Regions from separate parts of the Homo sapiens genome. Here regions 1, 3 and 4 are each linked to region 2. Evidence: fine-mapped expression QTL. A gene starts in region 2. Each other region holds a variant in brackets. All regions are shown on one strand. Distances are between the middles of the regions. Region 1 overlaps CHID1 (chitinase domain containing 1). Region 2 holds the start of TSPAN4 (tetraspanin 4). Region 3 has its middle 8.0 kb from the start of NLRP6. Region 4 overlaps TSPAN4 (tetraspanin 4).

What was found. PIP is the estimated chance that this variant, and not a neighbour inherited with it, causes the effect.
Region 1: its variant is fine-mapped to the expression of TSPAN4 in nucleus accumbens (GTEx, PIP 0.99).
Region 3: its variant is fine-mapped to the expression of TSPAN4 in nucleus accumbens (GTEx, PIP 0.96).
Region 4: its variant is fine-mapped to the expression of TSPAN4 in whole blood (TOPMed, PIP above 0.99).

What each region holds. Positions count from the first base shown.
Region 1 is chr11:896,716-904,715 of GRCh38, reverse strand. It overlaps CHID1 (chitinase domain containing 1), which reads left to right. Exons shown (of 13, transcript NM_023947.4): 2 at 1-10; 3 at 1,605-1,754; 4 at 2,386-2,518; 5 at 3,736-3,780; 6 at 4,606-4,712; 7 at 5,315-5,376. Among named protein-coding and RNA genes, the nearest start is that of CHID1, 10 kb to the left of the region's middle. RefSeq lists a silencer at 1,126-1,296 and an enhancer at 6,596-7,106. The variant C/T (reference allele first, on the strand shown) is at 3,907.
Region 2 is chr11:838,061-846,060 of GRCh38, reverse strand. It overlaps TSPAN4 (tetraspanin 4), which reads right to left and starts at 3,209. Exons shown (of 9, transcript NM_003271.5): 1 at 3,146-3,209. It overlaps CD151 (CD151 molecule (Raph blood group)), which reads right to left. Exons shown (of 9, transcript NM_004357.5): 9 at 7,230-7,928. The coding sequence ends at 7,869. POLR2L (RNA polymerase II, I and III subunit L) reads left to right here and starts at 3,532. Exons shown (of 2, transcript NM_021128.5): 1 at 3,532-3,647; 2 at 5,581-6,340. The coding sequence starts at 3,553. The coding sequence ends at 5,689. RefSeq lists silencers at 2,537-2,705, 2,691-2,920, 2,941-3,030, 3,141-3,770, 5,999-6,048 and enhancers at 3,039-3,782, 3,783-4,528, 4,529-5,273, 7,101-8,000.
Region 3 is chr11:266,401-274,400 of GRCh38, reverse strand. No RefSeq gene overlaps it. Among named protein-coding and RNA genes, the nearest start is that of NLRP6, 8.0 kb to the left of the region's middle. RefSeq lists an enhancer at 4,852-4,921. The variant G/A (reference allele first, on the strand shown) is at 3,432.
Region 4 is chr11:861,764-869,763 of GRCh38, reverse strand. TSPAN4 (tetraspanin 4) reads right to left here. Exons shown (of 9, transcript NM_003271.5): 4 at 7,023-7,214; 5 at 5,253-5,327; 6 at 4,150-4,251; 7 at 3,939-4,070; 8 at 3,763-3,846; 9 at 2,653-3,202. The coding sequence ends at 3,134. It overlaps CHID1 (chitinase domain containing 1), which reads left to right. Exons shown (of 13, transcript NM_023947.4): 13 at 1-1,905. Among named protein-coding and RNA genes, the nearest start is that of TSPAN4, 23 kb to the right of the region's middle. RefSeq lists enhancers at 3,368-3,901, 5,502-6,035. The variant C/T (reference allele first, on the strand shown) is at 3,631.

The DNA.
Region 1 (8,000 bases), 59 kb before region 2:
GCTGGAGAAGGTAAGGGTGGCCTGGGGACTTGAGGTGACTGTACTGGCTGAGGGCTGATCCATCATCCTCTTCTTTCTGTCCACTGGGGCCTGTGAGCCAGGAGGCTCGAGGGGCTTGGCTCCTCACAAAGGCACCTGATGAGCCCGCAGCCGGTGGGTGGCCTGTGTGGCTCTGGGGCTCTGGCCAGTCAGCACCTCTGAGTGAGCAGCCTCTGGAGCCAGGTTTTGAGGGCAAGCAGGGTGCCTCCCCACTCACCCCACGTGGGGCTTGTTTTATGTGCCAGTTGCCAGTTTCCATGCTCTACCTCTCGTTTATATCACCTGCATCTTCATCTTGCTGTCTTTATCATGGCCTTGAGCTGTGTTTGCCTCATGCTTTTTGGGACGTTCCCCTGGGATGGCCCTGGGGATTGCACCTTCAAGGGTGTAAACTCATAGAACCACCTCTCAGCCCCAGCAGTCCCCATGCCGCTGGCCAGACCCTGCCACAGGACTGTAACTGTGACCTAGTCCTGGACTGGCAGATGCTTTCTCTGTGCTGTATGGGGGCAAATAAACCATGCAGTGGACATCTCTCTCTCACGGGGCCGCTTGGGGCGAGGTCAAGGGGAGGCTGAGCCGGGCCACAGAGTGTGGACAGAAGAGACAAGTTGATAACTGGATGGAAGGTTTCCAGGAGCAGAGGTGGAGTAGGGGCAGGTGTGACATGGCAGGAAAAGACTCGCATTGGCCAGGGGGGTGGCAGGCAGTGGTTGACCAGCAGGGTTGCATTGGTGGGGGTGGTGGCAGGCAGTGGTTGGCCAGTAGGGTCGTATTGGCGGGGGCGGTGGCAGGCAGTGGTTGGCCAGCAGGGTCACGTTGGCGGGGGCGGTGGCAGGCAGTGGTTGGCCAGCATGGTGGCGTGTGCCTGGCATGTTCTTTTCTTTTTTTTTTTGAGGTGAAGTTTTGCTCTTGTTGCCCAGGCTGGAGCGCAATGGCGCGATCTTGGCTCACCGCAACCTCTGCCACCCAGGTTCAAGCGATTCTCCTGCTTCAGCCTCCCGAGTAGCTGGGACTACAGGTGCCCGCCACCATGCCTGGCTAATTTTTGCATATTTAGTAGAGATGGGGTTTCACCATGTTGACCAGGCTGGTCTCCAACTCCTGATCTCAGGTGATCCACCTGCCTCGGCCTCCCAAAGTTCTGGGATTACAGGCGTGAGCCAATGCACCCAGCGCACCTGGCATGTTCTTGTCCAGCAAAGCGTATGGCCCTGGAGTGCCCGGATGGGTATCGAGTGGCCAGAGCTGGTGCAGACCGTCCACCCTCACATGCAAGGAGGGAGCCACCATAACTGTCTGTCTGCCTGCCTGCCTTCCAGCCCGGAGCAAGGGTGGGAAAGGCCCTGTACCGTCGGCCAGTGTCTGTTGACGGCCAGAGTGCTTCTGAATTGAATTGCCTGCTGTGGCCTCGATCCTCAACATACAGGGTCTCCGGGTCAGCAGCACTGTGTGGATCCAGAGACTCGGCTGCTGGCTGAATGGAAGGGACTTGCTGGGTGGGGCTCTGTGCTCTACACTGTGGACAGATGACTGAGGCTTTTCTCTCACTCCTTTTATTTCAGAGTCAGTTTTCAGATAAGCCGGTGCAAGACCGGGGTTTGGTGGTGACGGACCTCAAAGCTGAGAGTGTGGTTCTTGAGCATCGCAGCTACTGCTCGGCAAAGGCCCGGGACAGACACTTTGCTGGGGATGTACTGGGCTATGTCACTCCAGTAAGTTGGGGCCCTCACAGTGCAGAGGGAGGTCCTGAGGCTCAGGTGGGCTGCCCTGGCCCCGTGATGGCCTCTTCTGGCCAGTCAGTGATGGGGGTCTATGTTCTGATCTCCCGGAGCTGCTGCTGCTGTGAGGCTACGGTGGGAGAGATGCCATTCTGGAGATGTCAGAGTGTAAGACCCTGGGGGTCTCTCCAGGGGCTTGCTGTGCTGATCTCTGTGGGTTCCCCCTGAATCCAGAGGTGGGCTCGCAGGTCGTCTGGGGTCAGGAAGTGGATGTGCAGAGCCAACCCTGGGCCAGGGAGGGGTGGGTTCTCACACCCAGCCTCCTCTTCTCTTGCTGTTCCCAGCTGCCAGCCTGCAGCAGTGGTGTGCACTAGCTCCAGGTGGGGCTTAAGACAAGCACCAGTCACTTTTGGTGAAAGGGATGTCGTGGCCTGGGTCCCAGGCTGTGAGTGGCAGTCCAGAGTAGGAGAAGGATACCCCAGGCCAGGAGCTGATGTCAGTCCGGGCTGGTATCTGTCTACGCTGGCCAGCCCTGGGCACGTCCAGAGGCGCCAGAATGACAGCACCATGGTGAGACAGGTGCTCACTCACCTGTCCTCCGTCTGATGTCTCCATCTTTTGCCAGTGGAACAGCCATGGCTACGATGTCACCAAGGTCTTTGGGAGCAAGTTCACACAGATCTCACCCGTCTGGCTGCAGCTGAAGAGACGTGGCCGTGAGATGTTTGAGGTCACGGGCCTCCACGACGTGGACCAAGGTTCTCATCCTTCCTGCTTGACTGTGCTTGCCCCACAGGCTGAAAAGAGTGTGAGTGCGAGAGCAGGGGTGTGTGTGTGTGAGTAGGTATGTCTCTGTGGGTGTCTCTGTATGGGAGTGTGTGTGTGTCTCTGCGTGATTTAAGTGTGAATGTGAGTGTGTAAGTGTGAGACTGATGATGTGGGAGAGAAGAGATTGTGAGTGTGTTGAATGTGACTGTCGGTGTGGACATGTCTAAGTGTGAGACAGTGGGTGTGAGTGTTGAGTGTGGTGACTGTGAGAACCACGCCCTCACCCCTTGGGGCCCAGCCGGCAGAGCAGGCCCATGGTGTGGGCTGGTGTGCTAAGTGGGAAGGTGAGTGTGGAGCAGGGCAGGCCTGGTAGAGGGGGTTTCTGAGGTGGTCGCCACGGTGGGACCCTCTGCAAGGCCAAGTTGGTGCCTCAGAGTGTTCCGCCCAGGTCTGCGTGTGGTCCAGGTGGCTGTGAGGGTGGCCTTCCCTTGCACTTCCGGGCTGCACACAGGCGTGTGCAGGACAGGCTCTACAATGACTCAGGCAGCCTCTGGGCAGCAAACGGCACGGGCCATTGGCTTCTCCTCCTCTGTCCCTCTCTCAGCGATTTTCATTCAATGCCAGGGAGGAAGGTGGGGTTCAGGCGGAGGCTGCCTCCTGATGGCACATCCTGACCTGATGACGTCTGCCCGAGTTTACGTGGCTGCGCCTTGCGTTTGGGCTCGGACAGAGAGAAATGGCAGGGGAAGTGTTAGGCAGTTTTGGAGTTCAGAGAGCAGGAGTGGTTTTCCCTGACACTGAGAGAACCGTGGGGAGGTGATGGAATGTCAGCCAGTGTCAGGGCCTGGCGGGTCTGGCCATCCCTCAGCTCGGAGAAACCCTGACCGTCCCCAGGCCCTAGGATGCAGCTGCCTGTTCCCCTGGCCGGCCACAGGCTCTGAGCTGTCCCAGCTCAGGGAGGGTAAGCTCAGAGCTGCTCTGCAGGGTCAGGAAGGGGGCCTTGGCCAGAAGGGTGGAGAGTTGGGGTCAGGAAGAGGGTGTGGAGAGCCAGCCCTGGGCCAGGGAGGGGTGGGTTCTCACACCTGCCTGCCCGCCCCTGCCCTTCCCATTGCGTATTGTGCGGCTGCCACGTTTTCCTCCTCAGGTAGGCTGGGTCTTCCAGTTGGGCGCACGTGCCTGTGTTGACTGTCCCCTCCATGTCCCACAGGGTGGATGCGAGCTGTCAGGAAGCATGCCAAGGGCCTGCACATAGGTAAGTGCGGCAGGCCAGGAGTGGAGGCCCTGATGGCTCAAACTGCGGGGGTGGACAGGTGGGCACTGGGGTCTCCACGTGTTCCTGATCACCCGGCTGTGCTGCTGCGGCACAGGTTACTTTGAC[C/T]GCTCAGAGATGAGGCTGGCCCTGGCCTGGCATTCACAGCCCTTAGTCTGGCTGGAGTCCTGAGCTCTCCTCCCCACACAGGCTGTGGCCCTCCAAAGCCAGCACCTCCTTGGCCAGTGGCATTGCCCTAATTGTTCTCAATCCCATTTCTTCCTTCATTCACATGATGAGTCCTATCAGGGCAGCTGGGGCCAAGCCCTGGGCTTGGCCTGAGGGTGATGCTGACCCTGGCCCATCTGTGCCCCTGTAGCTCACGGCTGGGGAAGGGGGGACATGTGTCCCCACGTCCAGTAGCAGCCTCAGAGGCAGTGGATTAAGAGCACAAGTTGCCAAGGGAGAGACTCTGGGGGATGCTAGAAGCAGGTGACAGGGCTGAGCTGGAGCAGCCAGAGTCTGTCCCAGCCTCCCTCCTGTAAGGTGGGGCCACAACCATGCTGAGCCGTGTGGGGAGCTGGTGTCAGGGGACCAGGACTGTCAGTGTCTGCTCGCTCCTTCCCCACCACCCCTCCCTCTCCAGCCTGTGAGGCTCTGGGACATCCTCTCTGGACATGTGGGTGCTCCAGGTGGCCTCCCTGCCCCTCACTGTCTGGTCTCACTTCCCTCTGGAGGCCAAGGGGATGCCTTTTTGAGGCAGCAAACAGCAGGGGCCCTCCAGCATCTCCCAGTCACGGCCCCCGTGTGTGTCTGTTGCCCCTGCAGTGCCTCGGCTCCTGTTTGAGGACTGGACTTACGATGATTTCCGGAACGTCTTAGACAGTGAGGATGAGATAGAGGAGCTGAGCAAGACCGTGGTCCAGGTGGCAAAGGTGAGACCTGTGTGCTGCTCCAGCCTCTGAGCACAGCCCCCCGGGTCCCACCTGGCCGTCTGGCTGGGCCTCCCGCGAGGCCTCCACTCGGCTTTTCTGTCTTCTGCCCTGGGCACCTTCTGGTGCAGCCCCCATCTTCCAGGGAAGGCAGCATCAGCCAGGCTCAGGCTGCTGCTCGCTTTCTTGACCATGGGTCCTCTGGAGGTCCCAGGCATGGGAGACCTGTCTGCTGGGCCAGGGTTCTTCCCTTGGGCAAAGCCCAGCTGCCTGCTACCCTCCTGGGAGGGGACCCAGCCCTGCTGGCTGCCAGTATGCCTGGGCCTCGGGTCAGGGAGCCCCCAGACCCCCGGGGTGGGGTTGGGGGAGGTGCATGGGTCGGCAGAATGCACGAGACCACTGGCCCCTCCACTCCTGTTCCTCTGGGACCCCCACACTTCCTCCTTCAGACAGGCCCTTCTGGGCATACAGCCCAGGCTTGGGTCTTGCCTCGTGAGTGACCAGGCCACAACCTGACCATGTGGGCCGAGGTGGCGGGCTTCTTGTCTTTCCACCCATCCCTCCTGGGCCTCCAGGCCCTCCTCACCTGTGACTGCTTCTTTCAGAACCAGCATTTCGATGGCTTCGTGGTGGAGGTCTGGAACCAGCTGCTAAGCCAGAAGCGCGTGTGAGTGGGCACAGGTGGTGGTGGGTGGCCCTCCTCCTGGCCCTGGTGTTTGAAGGAGGCTGGAGGAAAGACCAGGGGTTTGGGGAGGGCCTTCCTTCCACAGTCCCTGTGCCTGGGGTGGGGACGGGGCTGCACAAAAGATGGACACCTGCTCAGAGAAGTGGAAGCAGCCTGTGGCAGGCAGCCGGCTCCGAACAGAAAAGTGGAAGCAGCCTGTGGCAGGCAGCCGGCTCCGAGCGCATTGCTGCGCCAGGCCTGATGCCTCCCTTGGGCGGTCAGAGGAACTCGAGGACCCTCATTCATGAGGTCTTGGCAAGAGAAAGATGGCCCAGATGGTGACAGCAGGTTGAGCTTGGACACAAGCAGAAACTCCTCACTGAGCTTCGGGGAGCCTTCCTGGGGGTGTCCCTGAGCACGGCCAGGACCCGTGGTGTGGACCGCCATGGCGGCCTCTGGGGAATGCCTCCCAGGCCCCCAGGCTTTGTAGCAGTCCACTCCACCGGGAGGCGGCCACAGCACTCCCTCACGCCTCCTTTTGCCACATCAGAGCCCAGCCCACCCATGACCCTCGCGGGTTCCCACTCCCTGTGGGCCACATGACCAGGAACGGAGGGAGTGATAGGAAGTGCCATGGCTCCCCCACCTGGCCTGGACTGGACTGACCACAGCCCTGAGGAATGGCCCTTCCTTGGTCCTGCCCAAGCAGCCCTGCCAACTCACCGAAACAGCTACCTTCCCTGTTCTGCCAAAGTGGGCGACTGCCCCGCAAAAGATAGCAGGGGGACAGTACTGCTCCCCAGGATGTTGGTAGGGGGCGTCCTCGACATGCTCAGGACAGGTGGACTCCTCTCACTCCACTGGTTGCAACGAGCGAGGATGGTGCGGTCTCCACCGCGGGTGCCTGGACAGCAGAGCCCTATGGCAGCTGTCCAGCCCTTCAGCCTTCTGTGTGAGCCGTGGGTTCTGGAATCGGCTCCCCCGCCCCCACCACCTGAAGTAGTTCTGGTTGGGCTTTAAGAGCCCGGGCCTGAGCTCAGGCTGCATGGTGTCCCCTGCAGCAGCCATGGCACTTTCATCCCATTGCTGCTGTGGGCAAAGGAGCTGCAGGTCCAGGCTCTGCCCACCTGGGGCAGCGTCCCCACACAGATCTTAAGCTTGAGGGAGGGAAGGGACATTGTTGAGGCAGAGCCCATGAGGGGTAGGGCAGGATTCCTGCCCAGGGGCTCAGAGGACCCTCAGCCTGGAGCCGGTACAGGCCCTGCCCCTGTGAGTGGCTCCAGCCTCTGCAGCCCTGCCGCTCCTCCCACTGTGCTCTGAGGGACTCACTGGCTGGGAGGCAGCAGTCCAAGGCTCTTCCCGGAACTGCTCCCAGGCCCCGGCTCCAGAAGAGCCCTGGAGTCCTGTTTCCTGGTGTCCAGACCCCCACACCCTCCGCCAGCACCCCTCAGTGTGGTTCCCCACTGGATCCTGGTGCCCAGATCCCCACACCCTCCGCCAGCACCCCTCAATGTGGTTGCCCACTGGATCCTGGTGCCCAGACCCCACTCCCTCAGCCAGCACCCCTCAGTGTGCCCCCCACCGGATGTGTCCAAGAGGCTCCTCTGTCTGCTTCCCTCCTGGGAGGCCTGGCAGCAGCAGGAAGACAAGGAGCTGTGTGAAGGGAGGCTGGGAGGCGCACTGCAGTGGGGGTAAGGATGTCCGCAAGGCTATGGGGAGCCTGTCGTCTGCACAGCCTCTGAGGGGCCCCAGCTTTGCCGGAGGATCAGGTGCCTGCGTTCCTGGCTGAGGGACAATCCCAGGCCCTGCCTTGGGGGGTTCTTGCTGAGCCGTGGGCAGTGGACCCTGCCGGGGCTGACCTTCCATTACCCTCTGAGGAGAGGGGTGTCTCAGCAGGAGACAGAGCCCGCCTGCTTCCAGCCTTCTCACTAATCCTGGGAGAGTGGGTCTATTAACCAGAGATTTGCCACACTCATTTCCGTTTCAGAGCATTAGGTAGGCAGTGAGATGGCACCAGAGGCTCCTCAGGAGATAGCCTCTTGTCTGGGGTGGAGGCTGGAGGTGCTGAGACAGCCTCGTGTCTGGGGTGGAGGCTGGGGGTGCTGAGACAGGCTCGTGTCTGGGGTGGAGGCTGGGGGTGCTGAGACAGGCTCGTGTCTGGGGTGGAGGCTGGGGGTGCTGAGACAGGCTCGTGTCGGGGTGGAGGCTGGGGGTGCTGAGACAGGCTCGTGTCTGGGGTGGAGGCTGCAGGTGCTGAGACAGGCTCGTGTCTGGGGTGGAGGCTGCAGGTGCTGAGACAGGCTCGTTGTGTCGGGTGGAGGCTGGGGGTGCTGAGACAGGCTCGTGTCTGGGATGGAGGCTGGGGGTGCTGAGACAGGCTCGTTGTGTCTGGGGTGGAGGCTGGGGGTGCTGAGACAGGCTCGTGTCTGGGGTGGAGGCTGGGGGTGCTGAGACAGGCTCGTGTCTGGGGTGGAGTCTGGGGGCCCTGAGACAGCTTAGTTTCTGTGGTGGAGGCTGGGGGCCCTGAGACAGGCTCATTGTGTCTGGGGTGGAGGCTGGGGGCACTGAGACAGCCACACGTCTGGGGTGGAGGCTAGGGGTGCTGAGACAGCCTCACGTCTGGGGTG
Region 2 (8,000 bases):
GGCCCGCCAACACAAACAGCCTATGCTGTGGGCTTCCTGGCTGCCTCAGCCCCTGCGGGGCCCCAGTGCCCGTCCCAAGCCCTCACCCTGGGGGGTCCCAAGCAAGCTGGCACTCCCTCATGCACACAGAGGAGCAGGGACTGGGGGCTACATACAGAGTCTGGGTGGGACCAGGCCCCTCCCACCCAAACCTGAGCCCTGGAGGCTGGAGACACCACTCTGATACCCCCAGCAGCCCCAGGGGAGGGACAGATAGTCCAGAGGTCCCCCAGTCTTTCCTCCTGGGACCACCGAGGCTAACCCCACACTCCAGGCCTTCCCTGTAATCCTTTCCTGCACTGTTGGGTATTTATCTGCTGGGAGTCGGGGGTGAAGGCAACAGACTTAGGACCCTGGGTGGGGGGCACCTTCCCACACCCCCCAGGCTCCAGGAGCAGCCGCACCTCAGGTGCCATCCCACCACAGCCCTGGCCCTGGCCCCTGCAACCTAGACCCCTATAGAACAGTCTGGGGGGGCACATCAGGCCTGGGCAGCTGCATGGCAGGCAGTGACATTCCCAAATATCACCAGCCCCGACATATGAGTGGTGAGGCTAGGGTCAGTTCAGTCTCGGCCCCATCTACAGGCCCCACCGCTCACAGCGCCGGTCTCCCAGGACCGTAGAGAGGACCCGGCCCCATCTACAGGCCCCACTGCTCACAACGCCAGTCTCCCAGGACCGTAGAGAGGACACGGACGGCGTGGGTACGGTGGGCAGTGGCCTTGGCTGTGTGCACCGCTGAGGTGTCGGGCACGTGTGCTCGTGGCGCCGTGTGCACCCACCCCATCCCACAGCACCCTGGGGGTGAGCACACATCTGTCCCAGGCATGGACAGGGCCAGAGAGCACAGGTGTGGGGGCGAGGCTGGGGACAGACACCTTCAACACCCTCTCCCAGTCAAGGTCATGCCCAGCCTCAGCGGCAGGAGGGATGCAGCCCTCCGGGCGGGCAGTTTCTGATCCCACCTGAGCTTTACAGACAGGGAAACGTGGGCTGGGATCCCAGACCAGAGTGCAAGTTCAGCTGAATCCCAGCCAGGGCTCAGCCCGTGCTCCCCCTCCCAGCCCTCCTGGTCCCGTGGCTGGCCTGTTTCCAGGGCAACACCCAGGGTGGGAGGGGTCAGCAGCTAAAACTTCAATCATGGGTTTCCCCTGGTCCTTTGCCCTGAAGTGATCCCTCCTCTAGCAGGAAGCAGCCGGGGGAGCCCACCCTCTGCTCCCTGTGCCCTGCCCTGACCACAGGAGGCTCCACAACGCCCCCTTCTATAAAACCAGCGCCTCACCCTCCTGGCCCCATCCCAGACCCCCCCCCCCAGAAGCCAGGCCGAGTCTGCGCCAACACTCCACACCCAGGAGAGAGGGGCCCCCACCCGCCCCTGCTGGCGGGCACAGTGCCCTGCCCCGCCACCAGGCTCCCTCCCACCCCCGCTTGCCTGAGGAGGGCCAGGCCCAGGCTCCCCAGGGTCCTCAGGTAGAGCCCAGTCGGGACTGAGGACAGGCCTGGGCCCCCAGGGGCCTCCGCACATATGTGGTGGGGGCTCGGGGGAGATGCACAGAGCCTGAGGCTGGGGCAGTCTCCAGATCTCAGGGGCTCTGCTGGGAAATGGAGGGATAGGAAGCGCACACACTCGGAATTCCAAGAATGTCAGCTTGGCCCAAGCCAGGATTTGGAGAGCAGCTCACTCCCCACCACCCCTTGCTCTGAGTAAACAACTCCTGCAGGCAGGAACAGGGGCGGGACAGGCCCTGGACCCTCCTCCAAGAAGCCTCCAGGCCCCCACCCACTCCCCAGGGCCCACCCTGCTAACATCCGGGACCCCCCTGCCCCCCTCACCTCCACAGCCACCAGCAGCCTCGCAGCTGAACCTGGCTCTGACCCCAGGCCACCGTTACTCAGGGCCCCTGTCCTGCCCTTCTGCCCAGAGCAGGATGTGCGTCCACTCATCCTGGGGGGAGGGGGTCAGGGAAGGGAAGTGGCCTCGGCTCGTGGCTCCGCACGTGGCTGGGTGGGGTATGGCAAATGCCACTGGGGAAGCTGCCCAGGGCCCTGGCCAGGGTGGGAGCGGAAACCCCAAGCGTGCAGTGGATCTGGCTAGCACCACTCCGGACCCAGAAAACCCTTCGTCCTCCTCCTCTGCAACTAAGGCAGACGCAGCATTGCCCTGAGAAAGCGGCAGCTGATGCCTGGAACCCAACACAGGTCCCACCCCAGCCAGAAGCCCCAGGCCGGCAAACCAGCCCAGAGCCCCCCATGGGTGCCGCTTTGCGGCCCACCCACCCCCACAGCCCACCTCGCACCTCCAAGGAGCCTTCTTTGCCTCTCACTGCACACCGACCCCCCATTTCCTCACCCCCACCCCAGGGGCACAGCAAGAAGGGTGCTGGTGCCAGCCCCCCCGCACTCCATCCGAGAGACACGGGCTCCTCGTCCCTCGTCGTCCGTAGGCCCTGAGCTCCAGGGCAAGCCAGAGCTGAGGCCTTCAGGGGGTCCTGCCAGTGCAGCCTCCGGGAGTCTGCCCAGGGATCCCCTGTGCCGGGGTCTTCCAGGTTCAGCTCAAAAAGCACCTCTTCCACGACTCCCTCCCCGACCTCCCTCCCGGGTCCCCTCTCCCCGTGCTCAGAGGCGCGTCTGAGCGTCGGGAGCTCGGGACGGCGAGCAGCCAGCAGAGCCGGGACCCGGGAGGGCGCACCCCGACCCCATTCCCGGGAAAGAGCGGAAAGAACGCGGACAGGAGCCCGGGGCGGGGAGCTGCCGGCGGGGGCTGTAATTGCGCAGCTGAGGCCAGGGCGGCGCCCCTAGGGGCTGGGCCGCGTCCAGAATGGGACCCCCGAACTCAGCGCCGAGAGCCCCGGACACCCCGCGGGCAGAGGCCGAGGCGGAGGAACCCACTACTCGGCGCGGCCAGGAGGGGCGGCAGGAAGACCCGCCCCGGCCCCCGCCCGCCCTCTCCCCGAGCCCCCGCGCCGGACCCCACTTGTTGCTGCGTGTCGGCTCTGGGCTCGAACTCGCGCGCCCCGCTCGCGTCCGGCTCCAGCCGCTCCCGGTCGGACACCTCCGGCCACGGGACCCTGGCCGCACGCCCCCACAACCCCCAGGCGCAGTACCTGCGCCGCCGCCTCCCGCTCGCGCCGCCCGCTCCCGCCGCGCAGCTGTCAGTCAAGCGGACACGAGAAACGCGAACCGCCGCCGCAGCTTTACGGCCCTGCTCAGACGCCGTAGCGCCGGGATGCACCAAGACGGTGGGCGGGGGTGTGCGGTCTGCTGCTGCCGCGGCCGCGCGGGCCCGGGAGCCCCGGGACGCACAGGCCCAGGAGCCCCGGGACGCACGGGAAGCCCCTATCGCGGCGGAAACTGCGGCCAGCGGTGGCGGGGCCGGTGGAGGGACGGCCGGAACAGCGGAGAACGAGCGGAGCCGATTCTCCCGCAACAGTGGACGCGCCCGGGGCGGGGCCTGGGGGGGTTCTTCGCGTGCGGCCGGGCCGGGCCGGGCAGTCTGGGACGCGCCGCCGCCATGATCATCCCTGTACGCTGCTTCACTTGTGGCAAGATCGTCGGCAACAAGTGGGAGGCTTACCTGGGGCTGCTGCAGGCCGAGTACACCGAGGGGTGAGGCGCGGGCCGGGGCTAGGGGCTGAGTCCGCCGTGGGGCGCGGGCCGGGGCTGGGGGCTGAGTCCGCCCTGGGGTGCGCGCCGGGGCGGGAGGCGCAGCGCTGCCTGAGGCCAGCGCCCCATGAGCAGCTTCAGGCCCGGCTTCTCCAGCCCCGCTCTGTGATCTGCTTTCGGGAGAACCTTATCCCCTGAAGTCTGGGGAAGAGAACGGAGTTGGGCTTCAAACCAGTGGTGTCCTGGGGATTCTAGGTGGCCTGGCGGGTCGCAGGCGTCTTGTCACCCGCAGTAAAGCCCTTGGCCTCCGCCCTATTCCCATCTCTGCCCCCAGGCCCACCCCATGTCCTGCAAACCTCGCTGCAGGACGGGCGGGCGCGGCGGCTGACATCTGTAATCCCAGCAGTTTGGGAGGCCGAGGCGAGAGGCTTGCTTGAGCCCAGGAGGTCGAGACCAGCCTGGACAACCTGGGGAGACCCTGATCTCCAGAAATTTATTTTATTTTATTTTTCTTTTTTGAGACGGAGTCTCGCTCCGTCGCCCAGGTTGGAGTGCAGTGGCGCGATCTCGGCTCACTGCAACCCCCGCCTCCTGGGCTCCAGCAATTCTCCTGTCTCAGCCTCCCGAGTAGCTGGGACTACAGGCGTGTGCCACCACGCCCGGCTAATTTTTGTATTTTCAGTAGAGATGGGATTTCGCCATGTTGGCCAGGCTGGTCTGGAACTCCTGACCTCAGGTGATCCACCCGCCTCGACCTCCCAAAGTGCTGAGGTTACAGGCGTGAGCCACCGCGCCTGGCTCTATCTTTTTAATTCGCCGGACATGGCGGTGCACACCTGTGGTCCCAGCTACTTGGGAGGCTGAGACGAGAAAATCGCTTGAGTCTGGGAGGCAGGTGGAGGTTGCAGTGAGCCAAGATCACGCCACTGCACTCCAGCCTGGAAGAGAGAGTGAAACTCCGTCTCACGCACACACACACACAGAAAAAGAAATGCAGGGTAGACTTGCTGACCACCCTCATCAGGCTTTGTAGGGGAGGCGTCTTTCTCCTGTGCTTGTCCCTTGGTGCTGCTGTCACCACGGTGCCTGAGTCTTGGTGCCCCCGCTGGAGTCTGACCCTCGCCCACTGAGTCTTCGTCACATGTGAAGCCCTGGGCTTGTGTGCGCCAGCCTGCCATCGGCACTTGGTGCAGCTTGCTGGACAAACGAGGAAAGCGAGTGGGCTGCTAGACTGAGTGGCTGGCGGCCTGTCCAGACCCTTTCCCCGGATAGGAACGGCAGGGGCCTCCCATGTGGCCTCCCCTTTCCCAAGCTTCTGTGTCTCTGCACATTGGAGCCATCGGTGTGGGAGTTTTCTGGAGGTCTTGAGGGTGACTGGAGCTAGGTCCCAGGGAAATGAAAGCTTCTAATTGGCTTGGGAAGTGGGAGAGGTGGCTCCGTGGAGAAGCAGTCTCTCTCTGATGGAAGGAAGCAGAGGTGAGGAAAGACCCCACAGCGGCAGAGCAGGGCTTGCTCTGGCTGGGGTGGGGGTGAACCAGCTAAGGGCAGGCCCCTGGAGAGCTACCCTGCCGTGGCCAGTGCTGGATGAGGTGGCTGCACATCAGCACCTTGGTGGTCTTGGTTTTCTAAGCTCCCCGCAATTACTTCGTTTTCATTTCATTTACATTTCTTACATACGTTATACACACACACGTACAGCCAGAGTAGGTGGGAGAGGAGGCTCCTCACGCTCCACCCAGGGTTCTGGGCATTTCCAGGTTACTCCAGCCAGGATCATACTGCTAGATCTCAGCTTCTGAGCCGGGTGAATCTGTTCGCCTTGCCGGTGGCGGGGGGGGTGAGGCCAGCAGGCAGTGAGAGGCAGGTTGGATGTGGGCTCCAGGCCTTTGCAGACCGTAGAGAACTCAGTTGGCCTCTGCTCCTCCCCTCGACACAGGGATGCGCTGGATGCCCTGGGCCTGAAGCGCTACTGCTGCCGCCGGATGCTGCTGGCCCACGTGGACCTGATCGAGAAGCTGCTCAATTATGCACCCCTGGAGAAGTGACCACGCTGGAACCCACCCACCCGCTGTGCTGACCATGGGCCCTGAGCGTCCTGCCCCGAATTCACGAGGCTGAGGCATCCGGGAGCTGGCGTAATGCCTGGCCGCAGTGTGTGTGTATCCGATACCCCACTCTGGAAGGAACCATCCAGTAAAGGTCTTTCAGAACCACTAAGGTCCCAGCCCTCACTAGGATGTCAGGAGCCAGGTCTAGGCCCAGCTTTCACACTGTGGCAGCCCAGTGAAGCAGACTGGGCCATGAACTCTCCTAGCCCTGGGGCCAGCCTGTTCCACAGGCACCCCTGCAGGAGGCGCTGCCAGGAGAGCCTTCCATCTCGGGGCTCTTTGAGGTTCCCTCCTTCTGGGTGTTCTTCAGGCTGAGCAGAGAGGCTCCTGTACCCTCTCTCTCGGAATCTGAAGAGCCAGATTTAGGCCGGGCAAAGGGGCTCACCCCTATAATCCCAGGACTTTGGGAGGCCAAGGCAGGAGGATCACTTGAGTCCAGAAATTCAAGACCCGCCTGGGCATCATAATGAGACCCCATCTCTACAACAAAATTTAATAAATTAGCTGGGCACAGTGTTCACACCTGTAGTCCCGGCCACTCGGGGCTGAGGCAGGAGGATCACTGGAACCTGGGAGGTTGCCACTGCAGTGAACTGTGTTTGCACCACTGCACTCCAGCCTGGGCAACAGAGTAAGACTCTGTCTCAACACAACTATGAAAAAGAAGAGAGAAACAGATTTTCTGGGGCCCAGTCTCTGCTGTGGTCAGGGCTGCCAGTACCTGCTGGCCTCTGCCCACTGCTGCCTGTCCCTGAGCGTCCCACCCAAGCCCAGCAGGGAGGGCAGGCCTTAAGACGCTCCTAGCTGGGTTGGGAGGTGGCCCTAAGGAGGCCCTGCTGTCCAGGCAGTGCTGCCAGCAAGCACCCCAGGTCAGATGTCCCTGCTGCCCAGATATCTGGCGTGGTGTCCTCTGGTAGGGGAGAACGGGTCTGCCTGAGGGTCTACAGTTCTGAGCCTTAAGGACAGGAACCTGGGCAGTGGGGGGCACAATCAGTGACCGAGCCCTGGCTCCCATCTCCAGGGTACCTCTGCCAGACACCAGGCTCTGGTACCTCCTACCCTCTGGCCCCCAGCAGGGCCTATAGGCTCCTCCATGTAAACCCCCTCACCCTACTGCCCCCACCCCACCTGCCTGACACCTCTTACCTGGGCACGGCCCCCAGTCTGCACCCTTCCCACGTCTGCTCCCCACCATGGCCAGAAGGGTTTTGGAAACCATTTTTCCTCTCCCCCAGGGGCTCTGAACACACCATCTCACCATTTAGGAACATGTTCAGTTCTTTCTGCTGAGGCCTGTGCTCAGCTGTCCCTGGCATCAGACCTCCCTTCCCTGGAGCCCCATGGGGGGTGTGTCCTCCTGGCTCTGCCCTTCTTTGTCCTGACACTGGGCGGGGCGGGGGTGGGTCTGTCTGCCCTGCTGGATGCGAGGGCCCTGAGAACAGACCACCATCTGTTACCAGCACAGCGAGCTCGTCCATCTGCTCTACAAGTGTTTATTGAGCACCTGTATGTGGCAGGGATGGTTGTAGGCATCTGGGTACAGCAGTGAACAAAACCAGGAAGGCCCTGCCCCGCAGAGGCACATGAACAGGGCAGTGCACAGTGACCACGTGGCATTTCGGGTGGTGGTGACTGCGGTGGGGAAGACAGCAGGGGCGCTGTCGAGGGAGACGAGGGCTGGGTTGGGAGGGGCAGAGGCCCAGGCCCAAGGGTCAGAGCTCACCTGGCTTCCCCAACTGGGATGGGGCCATGTGGCTGCAAGGCAAGGCCCCAGTTCCTGAAGGGCCTGGGGTGTGAAGGGTTTCTCCCCCTGCTGGGAACGCTCGGCCTTGCGCCACTCAGCAAGGCCCCTTCCAACCTGCATCTGACCACCAGGCAGAGAGTGTGTCTGGGGAGCCCCACAAAACACCCCCCAAACTTCGCCCCGCCAGCCCCCCTCACCTCCCCTGCTGGGCATTGGTGCGCAGCAAAAGGCACTTGAAGCTGCCTCTGAGGTTGGGGTCCCCAGAGGTTATGGTGATGGCACAGGGTGGGTGTCATCAGGGAGCCCAGCCCCTGGTACTCAGTGGTCTCAGCTCAGTAGTTGGGTGCAGCAGCAGCAAGGCCCAAGGCAGGGTCAGTAGTGCTCCAGCTTGAGACTCCTGTACAGGCAGCACGTGAAGATCATGCCAAAGACCTGTGTGCAGAGCCGGGTGGGCGTAAGCAGACGTCATGGGGCCACCAGCCACCGCCCTGCCCCGTGTCCCCA
Region 3 (8,000 bases), 570 kb after region 2:
TAACCCCAGCTACTTGGGAGGCTGAGGTGGGAGAATTGCTTGAGCCCTAGAGATTGAGGCTGTTGTAGGCCAAGGTCATGCTATTGCACTCCAGCCTGGGTGACAGCAAGACCCTTCCTCTAAAAACAAAACAAAACAAACAGAACAAAACAAAAAAAAACCTGTAAGATTTATATGGAAATGCAAAAGACTCAGAATAACCAACATGATACTGAAGAAGAACAAAGTCAGAGGACTGACGCTGCTCGGTTCAAGACTTACTGTAAAGCTACAGCAATCAGCATAGTGATATTGGCAAAAGACTGTACAGATAAATCAGTGGAACAGAATACAGAGCCCAGAATTGGCACACACAAATATAGTCAAGTGATCTGTGAAAAAGGAGCAAAGCCAATTCAAAGGAAAAGGATAGTCTTTTCAACAAATGATGCTGGAACAATTGGATAGTCTCATGAAAAACAAATAAAAAAATCTAAACACAGACTTTAAATGTTTCACAAAATTTAACTCAAATTATATCATAGACCCAAATGTTAAGTGCAAAACAACAAAACTTTTAGAAGATAGACCAAAGCATGGTGCATAAAAGAAACAATTGATAAGTGGGCTTCATTAAAATGTACAACTTCTGCCCTGGAATAGATAGTATTAAGAGAATGAGGAGACAAGCCACACACTGGGATAAAATATTTGCAAAACACATATTTGATAAAGGACTGTTATCCAAAATATACAAAGAATTATCTTTCTTTCTTTTTTCTTTGTTTTTTTCTTTTCTTTCTTTCTTTTTTTTTTTTTTAGAGACAAGGTCTTACTCTGTCGCCCAGGCTAGAGTGCAGTGGTGCGATCTTAGCTCACTGCAACCTCAAACTCCTGGGCTCAAGGGATCCTTCCCACTCAGCCTTCCAAGTAGCTAGAACTATAGGCATGCATCAACACATCTGGTTAATTTTTATTTATTTATTTAGAGACAAGGTCTCCCTATGTTGCCCAGGCTAGGGATGCTGTCCTTCTGCTCAATGGTGGGATGATATTTCAGTTCGAGGTGCAACAGTTACCAAATTTAGGTCCAAAATCCCTGAGAATCCTCAATGGAACCCATATAAATCTAAACAGCCTCATGACCCAGGGGCCACAGCTGCTTCCAGAAATCTTCAGTTCGGTTCAAAAGACAATGGCGATCTGTGTTCCGCTTCCGCAAAGGGACAGTACCAGGGTCTACCCATGTCACAGAGCACAGTTTTCCTTGAAGAAACCCTTTAGGCTTGTACCCTTCTGCACAGAGTCCTACACTCCGGACAGCAGCTGAAAATTCCCCCTCTGTTCCTGTCACTCATCGACAGCCCTTTGGTACTACACTGTCATCCGCTTCCTCTGTCCTTCTCCCCTGGGCCCCCAACATTCTGACCCCCCACACCTCTCTCCTCGATGCTAGCCCTCTCTCTCCTCTGCGCTCCTCTTGGGGGCGGCGCCGAAGACCCCGCCTCATCAACTCATCAACCTCTCCTTCTGGGACGATTCACCCCAGAGCCTTTGGGGGTCCCAAATGGAACCAAAAGTGGCAGGACCTGCTTGCTGCCAACCCGAGGTCCATCTTCCCCTCTTCTTACCGACAGAACCCTGTGTGTGTGGATCAGCAAAGTGCTTCCCCATAAAACTTTGCAGAAGGTGACCTTGGGACACAGTCTGGGCAATGAGGGGAAAGGGAGCCTGCTGGGTGGGCTTGGGTGGTGGGTGGAGCTGCCACGGCCGTTGGCTCTTGGCCTCCCTCCGTCTTTGTCCTCTTGGACATGGACACAAAACTTGGAGGTCCACGAGCAATGCCCAGGCCCAGGAGCCAGAGGAGATGACTCTGGCAGCTGGGAGGCCACCTCGGGGCTTTGTTCTGGGAGAACGACTCTCCTGTGGGTTTCGGTTTCATGCGGCCCAAGGCCTTCGTAACTCGTACACCTTGGACCTGTCTCCAAGGCCGCAGGTGGAAGGGCAACGTGCACTTGGCCCCACTTCTGACGCCTCCTTCCACAGCAATGCTCTCTGTGGCCCAATCTTCCACGAAAGCAAACTGTCCTCCAAGGCAGGTGCTGGGCGTCCAGTGCTCCTTAAGGAAGGTCTTTCCCTTCCCCACAGAGACCCAGAGAGAAAGCGCCTCCCCCATGAAGCTGCTGGTCAAATGCTCGTTCCATTGGGCACTCACTGTACCAGGAAACCTGCTAGAGCAGCCGAAGAAAGAAAGGTTCAAACTGGTCTCAAAAGTAAGACGGCCTCAACACGGAAGGGAACCTGGACACAGCTGCAACATGGACGGCCCTGAGGACATTGAATAAGCCAGACACAGAAGGACAAATGCTGTGTGTTAGCACTTACCTGAGGCCCCTAGAGCCTCCGACTCACAGAGAGAGTAGAACAGCAGGGGCCAGGGCTGTGGGAAGGGGATGGGAAATGGGTGTTTAATGGGGAGAGAGTCTCAGTTTGGGAAGATGAGAAAGCTCTGGAGAGGGACGATGGTGATGGGTGAACGATGTGAATGTACTTCATGCACACTTAGCAATGGTTAAAATGGTATATTTTATGTTATATAAATTTTACCACAATTTAAAAAATAAGACAAAAAAAGCCAGTGTATCCATAATCTGATTAATTATTAGCTCAAGTGTTTTCCCGAGATAGGTCAGGAAATCAAAGCCTCTGCTTGTTTCTTCAGGAAGGGCCCCTGGCAGGACCTTGAGAACAGCAATTGATCTGCCCCACCCTGGAGAACAGGGGCCGTAAAGTCTTATCAGGGTCATCATGCCACCAACCCTTGCCACCCTCGGAGAACAGGAGCCCGCAAGGTATCCATCCTGTATCCAATTCCCTCTCAGAGCTGAGCTGCTCAGAACGAAAGCTGTCCCCAAGTGTGGATTAATCGTGGCCGCTGGTGGCTGTGGGGTGTCCCTTCACCAGCCGGGGGCAGCCTCCCTCCCTGGCCCCCAGGCCCTGGTGGTCTTCACTGGGGAGGCAGGGCCTTGCCGCCAGGGCCTCCTGTTGGTGGGGCCTGGTGGAGGGGCATGAGTGGGACTCTCTTTCCAGAGGGGGCTGGGCCCCTCAGCCTCAGAGGCAGAACCCCCTCTTTTGCCTCATTAGGTGGATGAGAGGAGGTGCCTATCTTTGTGGAGCCCCAGGACCTGTCCCCTTTACTTCCAAGGACATAGAGGACAGGAGGCCTGGGAGGAGCAAAGAGCCAGAGGCAGAACTGCCTCCTGGGCATATGACGCTCTCCCTTGGGGCGGAAAATCCCTCTTGCCCTGCAGGGCAGGGGGCTCTCCCAGCTGCCAAGGCCATCAGGGTGGTGACATGGAAGCACTAGGGCCCTTCCTGCTGCACTTCGGGAGCCCACCAGGACCTGGGTCCCGCCTCCTCCTCATTACAGGCCCGGGGACCCTCTGCCTCCC[G/A]ATCCCCTGTGCTACAGTGGACCGAGCCCCTGCCCCGAGGGTCACACCGCTGCCTGCTGGGAAAGGCAGCTGGCCCCCGTCGGGCTGGCTCTCCCTGGTCCAGTGTGCCCTCCTGGGTAGTTCCTCCTCGCTCACCAGCACAGCTCTGGTGCACACACCCACAGCAGGTCCACACGGCTGCCACACCACCTCCCTTCTCTGCTCAAATGTCTCCTCTCCCGAGGCCTCTGACCACCTGCCTAAGGTACTCCCCAAGTTTACTCTCTTGTGCATTGGTGTCCAGAGGCGGTAAAGCCTGGGGGTCTGGGGTCCTGTGCACCCTGTTGAGTGGGTGGCTGGTCCAGCTCCTGGCTCTGCCACTCACTGGTCACTCTGTGACCCTGGACACACTCTAGGTGAGTTTCTGTGTCTGTGGATGGACGGTTCCTGCTCCCTAAGGTGGTTGTGATCTCAAAGTGGTGATATTAAAACACTAAGAGTCGGGCCTGAGTGGAGCGGGGCCTCCTCCTTCACATAAATCAACTGGAAATGGACCAAGGCTGACATTTAAGAACTAAAACCATAAAACACTTAGGAAAAAATGTAGGGAAATCTTCATGACCTTGGATGATGATGATGATGATTATTATTATTATTTTTTTTTTTTTGAGACGGAGTTTGCTCCATTACCCAGGCTGCATTGCAATGGCGCGATCCCGGCTCACTGCAACTTCCACCTCCTGTGTTCAAGCGATGCTCCTGCCTCAGCCTACCTAGTAGCTGAGATTACAGGCGCCTGCCACCATGCCCGGCTAATTTTTGTATTTTTAGTAGAGATGGGGTTTCACCATGTTGGCCAGGCTGGTCTCAAACTCCTGACCTCAAGTGATCCACCTGCCTCGGCCTCCCAAAGTGCTGCGATTACAGGCGTGAGCCACCGTGCCCGGCCGACCTTGGATTCTTAGATATAACACCAAAAGCATGGGCAATGACAACAACAACAAAAAGATAAATTGTACTTCATCAAAATTAAAATCTTTTGTGCATCAAAGGACACTATCAAGGGGCTGAAGAGATCACCACAGAATGGGAGAAAATGTTTGCGAATCATATATCTGGTAAGGATTCATATACGTAATATAAAAAGGACTCCTTCAAATCAACAACCAAAACCCAAACAGCACAATTTCAAAATGAGCAAAGGACTTGAATAGACATTTCTCAAAAAAAAAAAAAGATGCGAATGACTGACAAGCACGTGAAAAGTTGCCCAACCTCGTTAGTCATTACAAAAATGCAAATGAAAAGAACAGTGAGATACCTTCTTACCTCCACTAGGATGGCAATTATTATGCAACTAAACAAAACAAACATGAAGAAAACAAGTGATGGGAAGCCTCCCATGTTGCTGGTGGGACGGTAAAATGATGCAACTGTTGAAAACAGTTTGTTTTTTCTTAAAAGACGCGGAAGAATTGAAAACAGGAACTGAAACCACACTCGTGTTCACTTTGCTAGTAGCGTTATTCATAACAGTCAAAATGTGGAAGCAACCAAGTGTTCCTAAACAGGTGAACAGACAAACAAAACTCAGTCTATCCGTACAGAGAAATGCGATTCAGGAATGAGAGCCCGACGCATGGGTGAACCTTGGGCACATCACGCTGAGTGACATGAACCTGACACAGAAGGACACGTACTGTATGAATCCACTTCTATGAAATAATTAGAACAGGCAAATCCGTAGAGACTGAAAGTAGATGAGACACGTGACCAGAGGCTGGGGGGACGGAGGAATGCAGAGTTGCTGTTTAATGGGGACGGAGTTTCTGTCTGACGGATAGAAAGGATTTTGGAAATAGTGGTGATGGTTACACAATATTGTGCATGTAACTAACATCATTGAACTGCACACTTAAAAATGATTAAAACAAAAAGAGTTCTGTTACGTCTGATCCTTTGCCACGATTTTTAAATAGCGCCTGCCCCGTGGTCAGTGCCTCCTGTGTTGGCCGCAATGCTGTGCTCCTCACAGCTGGCGCTGACCGCTATTTCCTGCTCTAGGGCGGTAGGCGGCATCTGAGAGCATGAACAAAATGCCCTACCCAGAAGGAGCTACGTCTTTGTTGGGAGACAGAAAATAAACAGGATACATAAATAAACAACACATGGATTAAACAGTGCCAAGGGCGGGGCGCGGTGGCTCATATCTGTGATCCCAGCACTTTGGGAGGCAGAGGCGGGCGGATCACTTGAGGTCAGGAGTTCGAGATCAGCCTGGCCAACATGGTGAAACCCCGTCTCTACTAAAAATACAAAAATTAGCCAGGCGTGGTGGCGGGCATCTGTAATCCCAGCTACTCGTGAGGCTGAGGCAAGAAAATAGTTTGAACCCAGGAGGCAGAGATTGCAGTGAGCAGAGATCACGCCACTGCACTCCAGCCTGTGTGACAGAGCGAGACTGCGTCTCAAAAAACAAAAACAAAAAACAAACAAAAACAGTGCCAAGGACAGAGCAGAGCGGAGAGAGGAGAATAAACGAGGGGGCAGGTCCGCGGTGGGGACGCAGTCAGGTGCAGGGCAGGGCCGTGGTCTGGCAGGAGCTGGCCCACTCAGGACACAGGAGGCCTGGGTGGCTGGGAGAGCCAGGGGGGCCGAGGAGCGGGCAAGGCTCCCTGGGCTGCTGTGGGGCTGGGGAGGGTGTGAGGGAGGGAGACGTCCGGCTCTCCTGAGGGGAAGGGAATCAGAGAGGGGCCACGCTCTGCACATGCGTAAAAAGGGTGGATCCCATGTGGCGTGTGAGATGAGAAGGGCTGAGGCAAGAGGAGGGATGGAAGTGGGGAACTAGAGCGAGGAACAGGGTTTGCAGGTAACGCCCAAGGCCCAGGTATCCTAGTTTGAGAAGCCTATTTACCAGGGAGCTGGGATGGCCGGGACCAACCCGGGCAGCAGCCGTGCAGCCCCTCCTAGTCACCACCCCCAGCCCAAGGAGGGACAGGTGAGGACTTCAAAGGGCCAAGCCCTCCAGCGTCCTCATCAGAAGCTCAGGTGAGGGCACACAACGTGAATTTACCGTTGCACAGTGCAAGCTCCAGCAAGTGAGGCTCAGCAGTGCCCTTGCAGAAGGAAGTGTTTTCCCCCAGCCTTGTCCCCGCTGCGGTGATTCCCCTCAGGGCAAAAAATCACTCCCCGGAGGCTCCCGCAGTCCCCCAGAACCATTCACTGCCCCATCTCTTCCGGGTCCACCCCACGAAGCTTGATCCACTCTCTTCACCCTCCCGGCTCCCAAAACTGTCCAGGGACCCGTGGAATTTCAGGGTCTAACAGCAGCAAAGCACCTTTTGCTCTCAAACTTCTCTGAAGTTCATTCCGCCCTCGGGCTGGCACGATGTCCTGTCCAGCTCCTCCCGCCTCCTCCTCGCCCCTCCCCCTCCTCCCCTCCTCGCTCCTCCCCCCTCCTTGCTCCTCCCCCCTCCTCGTTGCTCCTCCCCTCTCCCTCCCCCTCCCCTCCCTCCTCGCCCCTCCCCCTCCTCCTCGCCCCCCCTCCTCCTCGCTCCTCCCCCCTCCTCGCTCCTCCCCCCTCCTCGCTCCTCCCCCCTCCTCGCTCCTCCCCCCTCCTCGCTCCTCCCCCTCCTCCTCGCTCCTCCCCCTCGCTCCTCCCCCTCCTCTTCGCTCCTCCCCCCTCCTCCTCACTTCTCCCCACTCCTCCTCGCTCCTTGCCCTTCCTCCTTGCTCCTCACTCCTCCTCCTTGCTCCTCACCCCTCCATGTGGGCTGGAGATTTGTCTGTTTTGCTCACTGACACTTCCCAAGCACCTAGAACAGGGCCTGGCACCCAGTGGGAGCAGCTGATGTTTCCCGAACAAGTGAGCCCAGTAACTTTCAAACAGGCAATGGAAGCGCCAGAGGGCTTCCCCCACTGGCATTATTTTAAATTTTATAGGCAATGACTGAATATGTTAATTTTAAGAAAATCTAATAGTATAAATATGTATGAAATAAAAAGTGAAAATGACCTTTCCCTCCATGAAAGTCACTGTTCTTTCCACAAAGAATCTCTGTGAATCATTTAGTGTGGTACCACAGACCAATTCTGGGGCAATTATACAGACATTCTGTGACGCTGATCTATTTGTGCCATTACCACACTGTCTATACTTATCACTATAGCTTGATAATAAGTCTGGGGTGTCAGTTCGCCACCTTTATTCTTGTTCATGTTCATGGCTGTCTTAGCTATTCTTGTCCTTCACATTTCTGCTTTCATCTTAGAATTAGCCTTTGAATTCCCACTAATGGAAAACCTGTTGGGATTTTGGTTGGAATTTTACTGAACCTATAGTTCCATTTGGGGAGAATAAAAATTGTCAAAGTAATCTATTTTAAAATTCATGAATATAATATAACCTACCAATTATTTAAGGCATTTAAAAAACATCTCTCTAGAATGTTTTATAGTTTTCTATGTAAATATTATGCCCATCTTACATTTGATATTTTTTATGCTTTTAAAAATATCATTTGTTTGGCCAGGTGCAGTGGCTCATGCCTGTAATCCCAGCACTTTGGGAGGCCAAGGCGGGTGGATCAT
Region 4 (8,000 bases), 24 kb before region 2:
GACGGGTCTGCTGCAGTCCTCAGTCGGGGGTCCTGGGCACCATGTGACTCCCCATCCTCCCATGAGGGGTCCCTGCCCTGGATGAGTCCTAGCTGGGGGACACCCTGAGAGCTCGAGCCCCTCCCACCCGGGCATCCGCTGGCTGCCTCCTGTCAGCTGGGCAGGCGGGGCCCACAGTACCTGCCCCACCAGGACAGCCTGGCTCAGGCCTTTCTGGGCTGCTTCTCACATCCTGGGCTGGATGTGGGTTTGGAAGCTCTGGAACCATCCCGGACTCGCCCACTCCTGGATTCGAGGGCCCTCGCAGGGACAGCTCTGCCCAGCATCACCCCAGGGCCTGGCAGTGATAGAGCTGAGAGCTCCACCCCCACATACCTGCCACCCACCTGGCCAGCCACAGCACGTGTGTCACCTGCAGAGAGCCACCCAGACGTCCCCACCGAGTCCAGCACGGCAAGGGTGCAGGGGCTGCCCTAGAAATGGGCTCAGAGGAGCCTGGCCCACCCTCTTGAAACTGGTCCTGGACCTTGGCTCAGCTCTGCCGCCTCAGGTAGCACGACCCCCAGGCCAGCCTGGACACATCAGGGAGCATGGTGAGGGGCAACGGCAGGACCCGTGGGCCATATCGGGACAGGCATTTCCAGCGAGGGGTGGGGCAGAGGACATGTGGCTGGCAGGCTACACCCACCCTGCCATGCAGCGGTGTCCAGGCTCTGGGGAGGCCCTGGGGAATTTGGAGGCATCATGAGCCAAGGCCTGGTGGCCCTCGTTCCCCTGCCCCTCGTCACCATCCTGTCCTTGGCTGGCCGTGAGGACTCCCCTCCTCACCACTGGGTCCCACAGGGCTGAGGTGGGCAGTAGAGGGCATAGGTGGGTACATGTCCCGGGCAAGGTCTCTCGGGGGGACAGAAGTGAGTCCAGGGAGTGGGTGGGCCTGGGCGTCCCTCACTCAGAATGCCGTGGGGTGAGGACGGTGAGGACAGGGTGGGCACTGGGTTCTGGTTTAGAGTCAGTAATGTTAGGGCGCAGTGGGCAGGGGGTCAGGACATCTCCAGCCGGTGGTGAGGAAGCATGGTGGGGTCTCCTCCACAGGACGGGAGCTGGGGAGGGGGTCCTGGGTCGGACCCAAGGCACCCACACTTGAGAAAGCCTCCGCCTGGACGTCAGGGAGGCCTGCGAGCTGCCACAGTGCAGGTGCAGCCGTTCCCACCGCCCTGCTGCTGCTTGACACGGGCATAGGAGATACAAGTGGTGTGTGCGGCGGTTCATGCCTGTAATCCCAGTACTTTGGAAAGCCGTGGCGGGAGGAACGCTGGGCAACATGGTGAAACCCCGTCTCTACCCCCTAAAAATAGAAAAATTAGCAAGACATGGTGGCATGTGCCTGTACTCCTGGCTACTCAGGAGGCTGAGATGGGAGGATCGCTTGATGAGGTTGAGGCTGCAGTGAGCTGTGACCGACTGCACTCCAAAAACCTTGTCTAAAAAAACACAAGCTGCCACTGGCTTTGGGGCACTGACCTTGTCTCCCCAGAGGTGCTGACGCTAACATTCAAGTTGTTCTCGGGGGTCCTGTGGCTTCTGTTGGAGTGAGGGTGGGGGACACGCAGGTCTGGGAGGGTGGTGTGGGCCTGGAGCTAGGCATTGCCAGATCAGCATTGGGTGGAGGCAGGGGTGGGGATGCCACACAGGATGGGATGTCTAGAGCGGGCTGTGTCTCCCGGGGGGATGGGCAGAGGGTGGGGCAGGAATTAGCTGGAAATGAGATTGTGGGGTGCAGTTTGGGGATCAGATGCCCCAACCTGAACTGACCGTCATCCCTGTGGCCAGGGTCCCCACACAACCCTCACCCCTGGCTGTGAGAATCCTGAGGCACCTTGATGCATTTTTTTTCATGCCCTGTGACAGGTGCTTTGTGCTGCCAGCTCACTTAAAGGGGCAGAGTTCTAGGAACAAAATAGGGGAAAAGCACAGCCCCGCCTCGACAGCAGGCCCCAGGGTAGGGGGCGATGTGGAGGGAGGCCCGCCTCAGGAGGAGCCCCCGGGGTGGGGGGGTGAAGCAGAGGGAGGCCACCCCTAGCAAAGGCTGGCAGTTCAGGGACGGCCCCCCAGGGGCCTTGGCACTTTATTTTTTATTACTTTTTTTTTTTTTTTTTTTGAGATGGACTCTTCCTGTGTCATCCAGGCTAGAGTGCAGTGGTGCGATCTCGGCTCGTTGCAACCTCCATCTCCTGGAATCAAGCGATTCTCCTGCCTCAGCCTCCCAAGTAGCTGGAATTACAGGCGCCCGCCACCACGCCCGGCTAATTTTTTATTTTTAGTAGAGACAGGGTTTCACCATGTTGGCCAGGCTGGTCTCAAACTCCTGACCTCAGGTTATCCACCCACTTTGGCCTCCCAAAGCCGAAGGGATTACAGGTGTGAGTCACTGCACCCGGCCTCATCACTTCTTAGAGCTAATGTCATGATTTCCTTAAAACCAGAGGTCTGGAGACTGCTCTGCAGGCAGCTCCCCCAAGCCTGTGCACCAGGTGACCCCACAGCCCCAGGGCTCTGCCTAAGCACCGTTCATGCCAGAGGCTGCCCTGCCCCAGGCCTGGGTGCCAGAAGGGAAGATAGGGTAGGGAAGGCAGACGAGCAATAGACGCAAGGTTGCTGCTCACACTTTATTAAGATGCACCAGGAGCCCCACGGGCCCACTATGGAATGTAGGTGAGGGGTCCACGGCCCCGCCTGGAGCACCAGGACCAGTGGGGCCACCTCCAGGATGCCAAGACCCGGCTCCTCCAGCGCCAACCTGTTTTCCAGGAGGCTGGGGGCCACAGGCTGGCTCCCGTGTGAACACTGCTTTGGAGAATACGTAAATATAAAAAGTGCTGGAGGCCCCTCCCACCCCTGCCCTGGGTTCCGCAGCCAGCACGTGGCCACCCCTCCCAGGGGGGGTCCGGAGGCCCTGAAGCCACCTGAGCTAGGGCCTTCCAGAAACAGGGTTCCGGGGGCTCCAGGCACCTGTCCCTCCCTCCCTCCTCCCAGCATGGGGCAGAGCACCGAGGCTGGTGGTGGGAAAGGCAGCTGTGGGTGCGGCCATCTCCCCGTGGGCGTCCTTTTGGCAGAGAAGCGGGCGGTGGGCGGCCTACGCGCAGTAGGTGTCTGCCTTGACCACTTGGCAGTACATGGTCATGGCGAAGGTCAGGCCCAGGATCTGTAGGTAGGGGAGGAGGACTGGGCATGGCAGCTCCACAGGCTCAGGCCTCAAGCCCAGAGCAGTCCCTGTCCTCAGCAGGTGCCCTGGCCCTGACCCCGACCCCAGGGTGGGCGACACAGTGGCAGAGCCCTTCAGCTTCCTGGTGGCTTGCACGCCCCACCCAACCCCTGTGGCTCGAGCCACAGCACCCTCCCCTGAGCCTTGCAGGCATGAGGACACCCAGAACTTCCTGAGGGCTGTGGAGTTTGGAAACCAGGGGCCACTGGCACCAGGGCCCCAGCTGCCACCCTCTGTGCACTGGCCAGTCCTGGGCCACCGACCAACATGGACGACCACCGGCCTCCACCCCACACCAGCCTCTGCCTCTGTCCACTAAGAGGGAGCCCACTGTCCCCACAGGCCGTCCCTGCCCATCCCCCTGAACT[C/T]GCCCTCCTGCTTTTGCCCCGGCCTCCCCCGATCGTGGGTTCCTGGGGGCAAGGTCTTTGCTACTTTGTTCCCTGGGCTCAGAAGGTCCTAACAAAGTGGGGGCAGGGAGCCCGCAGGCCCCCAGGCCATACCTGCACCAGCGCCGTGCACAGCCCAAAGATGCCCACAGCCAGCAGGTTCTCCTGAAGCCACACCTTCACCGTCTCGTAGCACGGCTGCAGGGAGGGATGTCATGCGTGTCACGGCAGGGCCTGCTGGTCCCGCCCTCTAGGCCCCTACCAGCCCCCAGGGTGGGGGTCTCACTCACCGCCTTCCACCAGGTGCCGGGGGCGTGCAGCCCACAGCTCTCACTGAACTCCAAGCAGCAGGAGTCAGGTACCCGCGTGGCGTTGTACACCTCGAACCAGTCAGTGTAGTTGGAGACGCCACAGCAGCGGAACTGGGGGGCAAGCTCAGGTCGGGCTGAGGCAGGAGGGGAGGGGGCACCCGCCGACCCCGCCCACCTGCCCACGCCTCACGTCGGTCTGGATGATGCTCCAGGCGTTGGTGAGGCCCACGTTGCCCTGCGTGCCGTACAGGTGCAAGCCTTTCTTCAGGTCTTGCTGGGCATACCTGTCAATCTGGGGGTGCGGGGGGGGTCAGCAGGGCCCCTCCCACTGTACCCCGCCTCCCTCATCCAGACCCCCTCGCCGGCCCCTAAGCTGGGCCCCTCCTGCGCCTGGTCTTGTGTCCCCCGCGCCTCCTAGCCCACCAAGCTGCAGACACACCGGCCCCATGTCCTCCCAGCAGCCCTGAGGCCCAGGGCCCCCACCTCTGGGCTTCCTCCCCAGGCTGGGGGAGGACCATGGGTCCTGGGGGGACAGAGGACAGGGACACAGGTGCCTCCACGTATCGGGACACGTGCAGCCATGCTCTGTGAGCTGAAAGCCAGGGGCTATGAGCGCTGAGCCCACCCAGCACCCTGGCCTCGGTCCCCAATATTCAGTGAGGACCCAGAGCACCCTGGAGAAGGGGCTGATTCCTGGGCCAGGGCAGGGAATGAAGGAGCCTGGAGCGCCCTGCAGTGCCAGGAAGTCAGGACGTGCCCCAAAATGAAAAGTCTGTTGATGGGGGCACGTCAGGGGACCCAGCAGCAGACGGCAGAAGCTCCCCAGGGCCAAGGACGGACAGTGTGATTCACAAAACAAAGTAGTGTGTTCTAGCTCGGAGTGCAACCTCAATAGCCAGGACTTCATCCCAGTATAAACAAATGGCTGAATATATGAGTGAGTGACCAAGAAGAGGCCGCTCTACAGAGGAGAACCCCACGGTGCGCGGCCCGGATGGGGCGCTGGGAGCAGACGGCTCAGGACGCTGCGTCAGAGGGCGGGGGACAACCTGGGGCGCACCCTCCGGGTGGGGTAGCAGTGCCCTTGTGCCCCAGTCGCTATAGAGCCACAGCACAGCCTCCCAGGGTCGCTGGCGCTGCCCCTCCAGGCCTGGTAAATCCACACCCGCTGTCCTGGCTGCCCGTGAGGGCACATGCAGGGCCACTCTGTCCACACCGGGCCCACAGTGCTCCCTGGGAGTGAGGATGGAGCCCCCAGCCCTGCAGTTGGGCCTGCGGCCAAGGCAGCCGTACCTTGTCCGTGTAGGCGAAGAAGAGGATGGCGATGGTGGCCTCCAGCAGGAACACCAGCAGCAGCAGCAGGAAGAACTGTGGAGGGGGCAGGCTCAGACAGGGACCCGAAAGGCCGCACAGCCTCCGCCCCACAGCATGCCAGGGGCCAGGGCCACGTACCTCATGGATACCTGGTGCTGCCAGGAAACCTCTGCCAGGCCCCCACTCCCAGAGAGCCCAGAACGCCGCCCCCACCTCAGAACCCTTGGCCCCAGGTCCAGGGACTGTGGCTGTTGTGTCCTGCTCAGCCCCTGAGTGTGGGGCCCTGGGCTGGCCTGGGCTCCCCTCCCCTGCCCCCATCCCTGGGGCAACCCAGACACCCCCAAGTGGGCACAAATCCCTGTTCCTGAGGCCCCAGCCCCTGTCAGCTGCCTTCAGGACACCTCCATCCAGGGGCCTCTGAGTGTCTGGCAGGTGCCTCGCTGGGTGCCTGTCTTCATGGTGGGAAGATGTCCCAGCAGGGGCCACAGCTGGGCTGCAGAGGCCCCTTCTGCCCACACGTCACAGTCCTCAGGGCAGCCAGCGTGGCTGATGCCCCCTCCAGCAAGACCACAGGCTGCAAGCCCCACCTCTGACCATGCAAGCTTCCCCCGCCTGGCGGCAGCCCCAAAGCTCAGCCTGACCCCAGCCCTGCTGCTCCTCCATGCGGGGGTCAGTGACACCCACAAAAGAGGAGGGCAGGCATGGACAGCATGTGTCCAGGAGCTGGGGGGCCCAGGCAGAGTGGGCGTGAGTGGGGCAGACAGGGTGCTGGGCTAAGGACACAGGAGTCCTTCACCCCCAGGAGGTACCCAGGGTTCTGGTCCCAAGTCACCCATGGGAAAGGGGGTTGGGCTTCGGTCCCTGCAGGCCTGGTGGGGCCCACACACAGCAGCTTCCTCAACTGAGGAGCTCCAAGCCCCAGTAGGGCTGCCACAGACCCCCACCGACTGCCTCCAGGGGTCTCTGGGCCCCAACCTGATGCCAGGGAGGCTGATAGACTTGGGGCTTGCCCCCAGGAAGGGGTACGGAGGGGAGTGGACTGGCTGAGGCGACCTAAGGGAGGCCCCAACCCATCCAGGGCTTCCCAGACAAAGGAGTGATCGGAAGCCTCGTGATTTAGGACCTCAGCAGGCTGCACACCCTCCGCAGGGCCCACGGCCTCGGCCAGGCATGTTAATCAGTAGCAAGCCTGTGTTTCCATCTAGGAGCCCTTTTCCTTTTTAATTATCTGTGATTAACATTTCTAAGGAGGATAAACATATCCCTGCCTGTAAGTCCATCCCCGAGGCGAGGTGGGGGCTGGGATCGTCCCAGCAGCCGGTCCCAGGGAGCTGAGAGACCAGGCCCCCAACAAGAAGCTGGGGAAGGGGCCACAGTGGGGGTGGGGTGGTCAGGAATGAGTCACGGAGACCGCAAGCCCGTGAAAGGCTGCGCATGCGTGTGTACGTGTGTGCGGGGCTGTGCCTGCACTCACCAGGGCCAGTGTCCCGTCAGGGGAGGCCCCTGACAAGGTACAGCACGTTCTCTTGAGTGACCCCCACACCGCTCTGCAAATCACCCCCCAGCCCCAGTGTGGCCTGGAAGACCCAACAGTGGCCAGGGCCCCGGGCCACACTGCCAGCCTGGAGGTCCGGCCCCAGAGGTGGTGCCCACGTCTGGGGGGTCACTGCGGCAGCCAAGGCCTGGGGGCCACCGGAGCCCCACCCTGCGTGGTCCCACCCGGAGCATCGCTTGGGCCCCGGCACTCACAGTGAGCAGGAGGCACTTGTTCTCCTTGATGGCACCCAGGCAGCCCACGAAGCCGATGGCCATGACAAAGGCGCCGGTGATGATGAGCAAGTTGGCAGCCGACAGGGACGGGAAGGAAGAGGACAGCGTGGCGAAGCTCCCCTGTGTGGCGGCCAGCCAGATGCCGACACCCAGCACGCCACAGCCTCCCAGCTGGGGCACAGCAACAGGAGAGACACAGACAGGGTGAGGCCCCAATGCAAGCTCTGGACCCCAGGGCAGAGCCCGGCCCACAAGCCCAAAGCCATGCCGCCTGCCAGCCTGAGCCAGAACCACCCAGAGTCCTGCTAGATCCCACGGCAGCCCGGGGGGGTGTCCAGGGCAGGCCAGTCTTTCCCGACACCCTGGGCTGGCACCCCATCCCCAAACCCACACTCCATGGCCACAGTCGGGGAGGCTCCCTTGTGCCTCTGAACCACTCCCTCTAGGAGGGATCCGCCCAACCCCTGGCCTGGAGCCAAAGGGACGGGATCTTAGGCCCCAGGACGCAGTCTGCACACCCCTAACCCCGCTTCACCGTCTGGTCTGCGCAGGGCAGAAGGCTCACTCCCCACCTGACAGGCCACTCCAGCCTTTCCAGACTGTGCTGTCAGGGAGACCCAGCCCTGCCCTCACTCCGGGATGGGGCTTCCTGGCAGGTGGTCCCAGGATTCCGATTCCCAGCTCCCGACAAGATCTCTGTGATGTCCCCAGCTGTCCCCTGTCACTCGTGGCAGGAGAAACGCTGATTCCCTCACACTCTGCTCCTGGTTATGATTTCTTTCTTTTTTTCTTTTTTTGGAGATGGAGTCTCACCCTGTTGCTCAGGCTGGAGTGCAGTGGCACCATCTGGGCTCACTGCAACCTCCTCCGCCTCCCAGGTTCAAGTGATTCTCCTGCCTCAGCCTCCCAAGTAGCTGGGATTACAGGCATGCCCCCACCACACCCGGTTAATTTTTT